2 linked regions of the Homo sapiens genome follow. The protein of the gene in region 2 interacts with the protein of the main gene of each other region in a pairwise test. Each region holds a gene or a part of one and is shown on either strand. Other genes may lie near its edges.

What was found.
Region 1: the proteins of CYP51A1 (region 2) and ZNF420 interact in a two-hybrid assay, tested with the Homo sapiens proteins (one large-scale study listed by BioGRID and IntAct).

The regions. Positions count from the first base shown.
Region 1 is NC_000019.10:37,084,822-37,088,650, reverse strand, and holds part of ZNF420 (zinc finger protein 420), read right to left. Parts: intron 3,626-3,829; exon of another isoform or gene 3,593-3,625; intron 1-3,592. UniProt on the Homo sapiens protein: May be involved in transcriptional regulation.
Region 2 is NC_000007.14:92,111,559-92,114,800, forward strand, and holds the end of CYP51A1 (lanosterol 14-alpha demethylase), read right to left. Parts: intron 2,286-3,242; coding exon 2,107-2,285; 3' UTR 595-2,106; downstream 1-594. UniProt on the Homo sapiens protein: Sterol 14alpha-demethylase that plays a critical role in the cholesterol biosynthesis pathway, being cholesterol the major sterol component in mammalian membranes as well as a precursor for bile acid and steroid hormone synthesis.

The sequences.
Region 1 (3,829 bases), on a different chromosome or scaffold from region 2:
AATATGTAACTAAGTATTGTTGACACCTTTTATATTTGACATTTTGAAATAAAGGCTAAATATATGTGTGTTCATGTGTACGTATAGAATAAATAGAAATGCATTATCTATAAATGGAGGTTTCTATACATATTTGCTATAGGCAAGACAAATAACACAATTAGCATTGCCATCAATACTATAACTTTTTGAAATGGTTAAAAAAAACTCAGTAAATTTCTTAAGCGAAGTAGAGCCTTTTTCTCAATCAAATCATGGTTGCATTCCTGGAAGATACAGCTAATAGTAAAACCATCCAATAATAGGAAAGTAGATAAATTCAGCAAATTGAAAAAGTCATGCACAAAATGCATTATGTAAGAGATTCCAGACCTGGAAAATCATAAACACATTTTTTCCAGGTATGGTTCTCAATTTTGCAAATCACAGACAATTTTTTGTTATGCACTGATGGACAACTAAATCATAACTTGGCAAACTACTGTCTACCAACTAATTTTGTAAATAAGGTTTTATTGGAATACGTCCATACTCATTCAGTTATATAGTGCCTTTGGCTACTTTCACACTACAGCAGCAGAGCTGAAGAGTTGCAGCAGAGACCATGTGGCCCGCAAAGCCATATGAAATGTCTAGCCCTTTACAGAAAAAGTTGGGTAATCTCTAACCTAGATCCGAGACCTCACTCCTTCAAAAGCTAGAAATCGGCCGGGTGCAGTGGCTCACGCCTGTAATCCCAGCACTTTGGGAGGCCGAAGCGGGCGGATCACGAGGTCAGGAGATCTAGACCATCCTGGCTAACATGGTGAAACCCCGTCTCTACTAAAAATAAAAAAAATTAGCCGGGTGTGGTGGCGAGCGCCTGTAGTCCCAGCTACTCAGGAGGCTGAGGCAGGAGAATGGTGTGAACCCGGGAGGCGGAGCTTGCAGCGAGCCGAGATCGCGCCACTGCACTCCAGCCTGGGCGACAGAGTGAGACTCTGTCTCAAACAAACAAACAAAAAAGCTAGAAGTCTTTACCCTCAACCCACTTACTTTAACATTCAACAGTACCTAGATATATTTCCAAAACACCCTCTAGGGAGAATAACTGCCCCTGCAGAGAATCATTGATACAGGTGCTCAATACATTTTTAACTGAAAATTTGACTTCTTCAACATATAGATTTCTGCAAGAGATACTTGGGCCCATCCTAACAACCTAAAAATAATTCAGATAAGATGAAAAGTCATAATTTCTTTTAAATTCATCAGAGAGCTGAGGGCACAAATTTAAAAGACCTAAACTCCAAAAAAGTGCCAAGCTCTTAATTTTTATTTATTTATTTATTTATTTATTTATTTATTTATTTATTTATTTTTTTTTTTGAGACAGGGTCTCACTCTCAACCAAGCTGGAGTGCAGTGGTATGATCATAGCTTACTGTAACCTTGAACTCCTAGGCTCAAGTAATCCTCCCTCCTCAGCCTTCGAAGTAGCTAGGACTGCAGGCATGTGCCATCATACTCACCTAATTTTTACTTTTTTTGTTGGGATGAGGTTTTGCTACATTGCCCAGGCTGGTCTTGAACTCCTGGCCTCAAGCAATCCTCCTGCCTCAGCCTCCCAAAGTGATGGGATTATAGGTATAAGCCACCACATGTGGCCCTAAGCTCTTCTTAAGAGCCACATATGGATGCTCCCATCTATGGCAGAGCTTAAACTAAATTGTATTAATAATAGTTCAACCATTCCAATAAAAAAATGGTAACAAGACAAGATAAAAATGCATGTTCCAACTACATGCTCTTTACAAGAAGCACATTTTAAATATAAAGATGGGCTAAAAGTAAAATGGGAAGATACACCATCAAACTCTAATCACAAGAAAGCTTGTATGCCTATATTAGTATAAGACAAAATAGACTTCAAGATAAAGAGAAATACTAGCAATAAGGAGGATCAACTCATCAAGAAGACAGCAATCCAAATGTAGAGATTTAACAACAAAGCTTCAAAATGTGTGAAGCAAAAATTGACAGTACTAAAGGAAGAAAGAGACAAACCCACAGAGTTGGGAATTGTAAAATCTTTTGCTCAGTAACTGACAGAACAAGTAGACAATAAAATCGATAACAATATAGAGGATTTACATACCACTATATCAAGTACCTTGGCCAAGATGATAAATATATATTAATAGAATACCACACCCACTTACCAAAAGCCAAGCTGGGCTGAAGAGAACTGAGCTGCAAGGTGTTGGAATAAGTGATTAACACAACCAGCCTTTAATCACTTAGTAGTCACTTAATTTAAGAGGCTAACCCAGAGAAAGCGCTGAGTACTCCACTGTTTCACTCCCCCAACCCCAACCATGAAATAGCACCTGGAGAGGGTCAGAGAGGGTCAGGCAGATCAGTGCAAATGTGGATCAGTGCAGAAGTGAGTCATCTCACTGCTAAGGGAATGCAGAACAAAAAGCTCCTATCATTCATTTTATGGACTGGGACCAGGGGACAAGAAGACAAGGGAAGGGCTAAGAGTGAAAAAGTAGTGAGGCCTGGCTGGGCACGGTGGCTCATGCCTGTAAGCAACCCCAGCACTTGGGGAGGCCGAGGCAGGAAGATTACTTGAGGCCAGAAGTTTGAGACCAGCCTGGGCAACATAGCAAGAATCTGTCTCTACAAAATAATAATAATAATAATAATAATAATAATAATAATAATAATAAAACATCAGCCAGGCATTGTGATGCAAACCTGTAGTCCTAGCTACTTGGGAGGCTGAGGCAGGAGGATTGCTTGAACTGTCCAGGAGTTCAAGGCTGCAATGAGCTATGATCATGCCACTACACTCCAGTCTGGGCGACAGAGCAATATCCTGTCTCCAAAAATATGTTAAAAAAAAAGAAAAGAGAAGAAAGAAAAAAGAAATAAAGAAAAAAATTAAAACTACCGGATACTAAGAGTGGGGAAAGAAAGTGTCTTCAAAGTTTCCCCTCTCCCCTAGATTAGGATGTCCTCTTGGCAGAGGCACCTGATAAAGAGGCCTCCTAATGGAGGTGCCTGGGTTAGGAATGTAAACACGCATAACAGCATGGCTGGTCTGGGAGGCCTGAGTCCTGCACTGCAACTCCCTTTAGAGACTGTAATGCACTAGAAGTGCACCAAGTCTGCTGCGGGGAGGCCACCTTTCCCCTGTGTGGCCTGCCAGGAATGACCTGGTGGAGCCTGAGAACCCACACATAGGATTTTAGCAAGAGTCAGACTCTTCATTAACAACTGCGTATGGAAAGGTCATCAAAATAAACCAGATGCTGGGTCATAAAACAAGTAACAGTAAATATTTTAAAAACTGAATTATACAGAGAATATACTGTGGTCAGTGTCCACATATTATTAAATTACAAACTAGTAACAAGAATCTCCAAATATTTGGAAATTAAACATACTTCTAAATAACCCATGCAAAAAGACATTGAAAAATATGCCGAACTGAGTGACAATGGAAACACACTTATCAGATTCTGTGAGCTGCAACAAAAGCAGTATTTAGAGGAAAATTAATAGTGTTAAATGCTTATGTTAGAAAAATGATTTAGGCTCCCACCTTAGGAAGCTGGAAAAAGAAGAGCAAGTGAAGCTGAAAGTAAGAAGAAAAGAAAGAATAAAAATAAGCACAAAATCCACAATATAAAGTAGATTACAATAGAGAATATCAACAAACTCAAAAATCAATTCTTTCAAAAGATTAATACAGTTTACAAACCCCTATCAAGTTTTCAAAAAAAAATATTACCAAAGTGGAGACTGGACCACAGATTTTTTAAGGCTTTAATTAAAAAGA
Region 2 (3,242 bases):
CCACATTAGAAGCTGGGTTCCAATAAGAGGAATTCTAAAAATAGCAAACGTACTCTAAAGCAGTTAGTTGAAGGGGCAGGTTGTGGGTAAAAACCTTTTTCAGCTAGCATGGCTTGCCATTCAAGGCTATTCTGCTCTAAGAGACAGTGGAGAAAAAAACAGATGGACAAATGATCTGATCAAGCTGAGTTCAGTGCCATTGTTTGACCACCACGCCTCCTTATGATAGTAGGCCTCTGCAATCACACTTGTTTATGCATCTCAATAATTAATTAGTCTGTGATTAAAAATGAAATCTGTTAAGAAGTCTAAAACTATTCACTAAACATTAGACTAGCCTTATCTCGGGGTCGTAACTAGATACTTCAAGAAATCTGTAACATCTGTAATATGAAAATATCTGAGATTTCTATTGACAAAATCATGGATACTGCTAATAAAATGCTGCCCAAATTCATAATTGAAATAAATACTAAATTGCAGTTAGAAATTATTAGTGCAAATAAAGATGTAATTTTTCCCCACCCAAGTTCCTGGATTCCCTAACTCTGCTCACTGAAGCACATATTTTACAATTCATGAATACAGACTGTATTTTTTCAAAGAGAATTTTAATCTGAAAAATTAGCAGAGATTCTGCCTTCACAATTAGAGTTTAACATGAGTCTTCCAGTGTTTTAAAAAGAACTGTAATATACATAAAGCAAAATATTTTGGCATCACCTAGTGAAAACAGACGATGTGGTATTTTTTCAGCCATCTCATATAGTTAGGCCCCGAGTTACAATTTGAGATAAGTTGATTCCTAAACAGAATGTGCTTTACAGAATGTGACCAATTTTATTACTCCCAAGGACCTTGTTTCAGATTATCTTAAAACCAGAGTTCACTGATCTCACATTTTAAAAAGAAAAAAGTTTGTTAACTGTTTTAATCAATATGAGTAGTAACAAACATCCCTAATTGGATTCTAGAGAGGAAGCAGGGAAGGCCAGGTGCGGTGGCTCATGCCTGTAATCCCAGCACTTTGGGAGGCCAAGGCGGGTGGATCACGAGGTCAGGAGTTCAAGACCAGCCTAGCCAACATAGTGAAACCCCCGTCTCTACTAAAAATACAAAAAATTAGCCAGGCATGGTGGCAGGTGCCTGTAATCCCAACTACTTGGGAGGCTGAGGCAGAGAATTGCTTGAACCCGGGAGGCAGAGGATGCAGTGAGCTGAGATCGCACCACTGCACTCCAGCCTGGGCAACAGAGCGAGACTCCATCTCAAAAAAAAAAAAAAAAAAAGGAAGCAGGGAACAACTGAGCCAAAACAAAATTATCCCCTAAGGACTTGACTTTGGACTTCCACATAAATGTGACCTTGTAGAACTAGATACATATTTATCAGGTAAATAAATATGTAATTATTTAGTAATTAGATCAAGATACATGAGCAGTCTTTAGCATTAATAATTACATTATTTTTAGGAACTCTTATCAAATATGGTCCTGGATCTCTTAATTTCCCATATGCAGTGATTTTAGTTAAAATTCCAAAGGATTTCTTTTTCCTATAATATCTCCATTTCTGAGTATCATCATACCAAAACAATTAGTATTCTCTTATTCAAGGCTTTAGATGTTCGATTATTCCCTACCCTTCCATCCTCACACACACAATAATTGCCCAGATAAATAATAATAAACTGTGGTTTCCAAGTATCTCACTGGGATTTTTATTCTTTATACCTTGCAGGACTAGTCCAAGATTTGAATACCCTGAACTTATTTGGCAAGAGCGATGAGTACTCTTAAAATTACTATCTGGAAATTATATTATTTAGAATCTGCCAATTACCTAGATCCCCCCTCAACAATTGTTTCACCAAGGAACTTCCTGAAAGCACATGTATAAGTATCATAACTATTAGAAAATGTTTCAAATGCTATTATATTTGATAGAACCATTCAGTTAACAAAATCCTAAATCATAAACTGGCTTTTAGAATTACACACTTAAAAAAACAGTAAACTACAAGAGTTGTTTTGTACACTTCATTCTCTTCGAATGCCTTTGTGGCTTACAGTGATAATCACATATATTCGTTCCTTGCAACCTTTTTCATTTTGATCTTCGTTTGTAACGGATAACTGGGTTTTCAGGGGTGTGAATCATAGTTGTATAATTCACAGTGGGAAAGTATCCATCAATGAGATCAAATTCATATAAACGAAGCATAGTGGACCAAATTGTCTTAATTTGAACATAGGCAAAATTTTCCCCAATACAACGATGACGCCCTAAAAAAAAGAAAAAGTTATAAGAATCAGTTTAAATTCTTTCTCATCCTTTTTAGCCTGGGGTGATATTATCTACATTTTAGATGAACAGCAAATGTACAGATAATATAATAAAAAGATGACATTCTTTTCACATAAAACAACATGAATTATTAAAAATTCCAGGAGATTTTCAATACCACATTTTAGGAAAACAGTACTTGACTGATCACATAACTTTTCCAATTACTTTTTCTGAAAATATATATCTGGGTTAAATATATGGAAAGTTTGAATCATAAGATGGTAATCTAGTTTGGGAATATAGTAGAATATTCTGTTTGTCCCAAGAAAGCCCTAGTTAAAAGTCAATATGAAAACCTTCCAATCAAACCTCAAATGTCATTATAAATGTATGGAAGAAAATGAGATTTAATGAACCCAAAATAATATACTAAAAAGTCACACCCATGTAGAAACTGACAAGCTGATTCTAAAATGCATATAAAAATGCAAAGGACCTAGGATATCCAAAGCAATCTTGGAAAAAGAACTGAGTTGGAGGACATAAAACTGATTTCAAATCTGACTTCAAGACTAAAGATAAAACAGAGTGGTACTAGGTAAGGATCAACAAATAGATCAATGGAACAGAGCAGAGAGCCCAGAACAGAATATTTTTATGGTTATTTGATTATCAGTACAGACACCAAAGCAAGCCAATGAGGAAAAGCAAGTCTTTTCAACATAAGGTCCAGGAATAACTAGATATTACATGGGGGAAAAATGAAATTCAACTCCTATGTCACACCATAATCAAATACTAATTCAAGAAGGGTCACAAACCATGATGCTAACAGCATAAATTTCAGTAGAGAAGAACAGGAGAATATCTTCATGACTCAGGGGCTAAGCAAAAATTTTAAGACAGGGCCAGAAAGCAATAACCATTTAAAAGATTGATACATTGGACTAAAC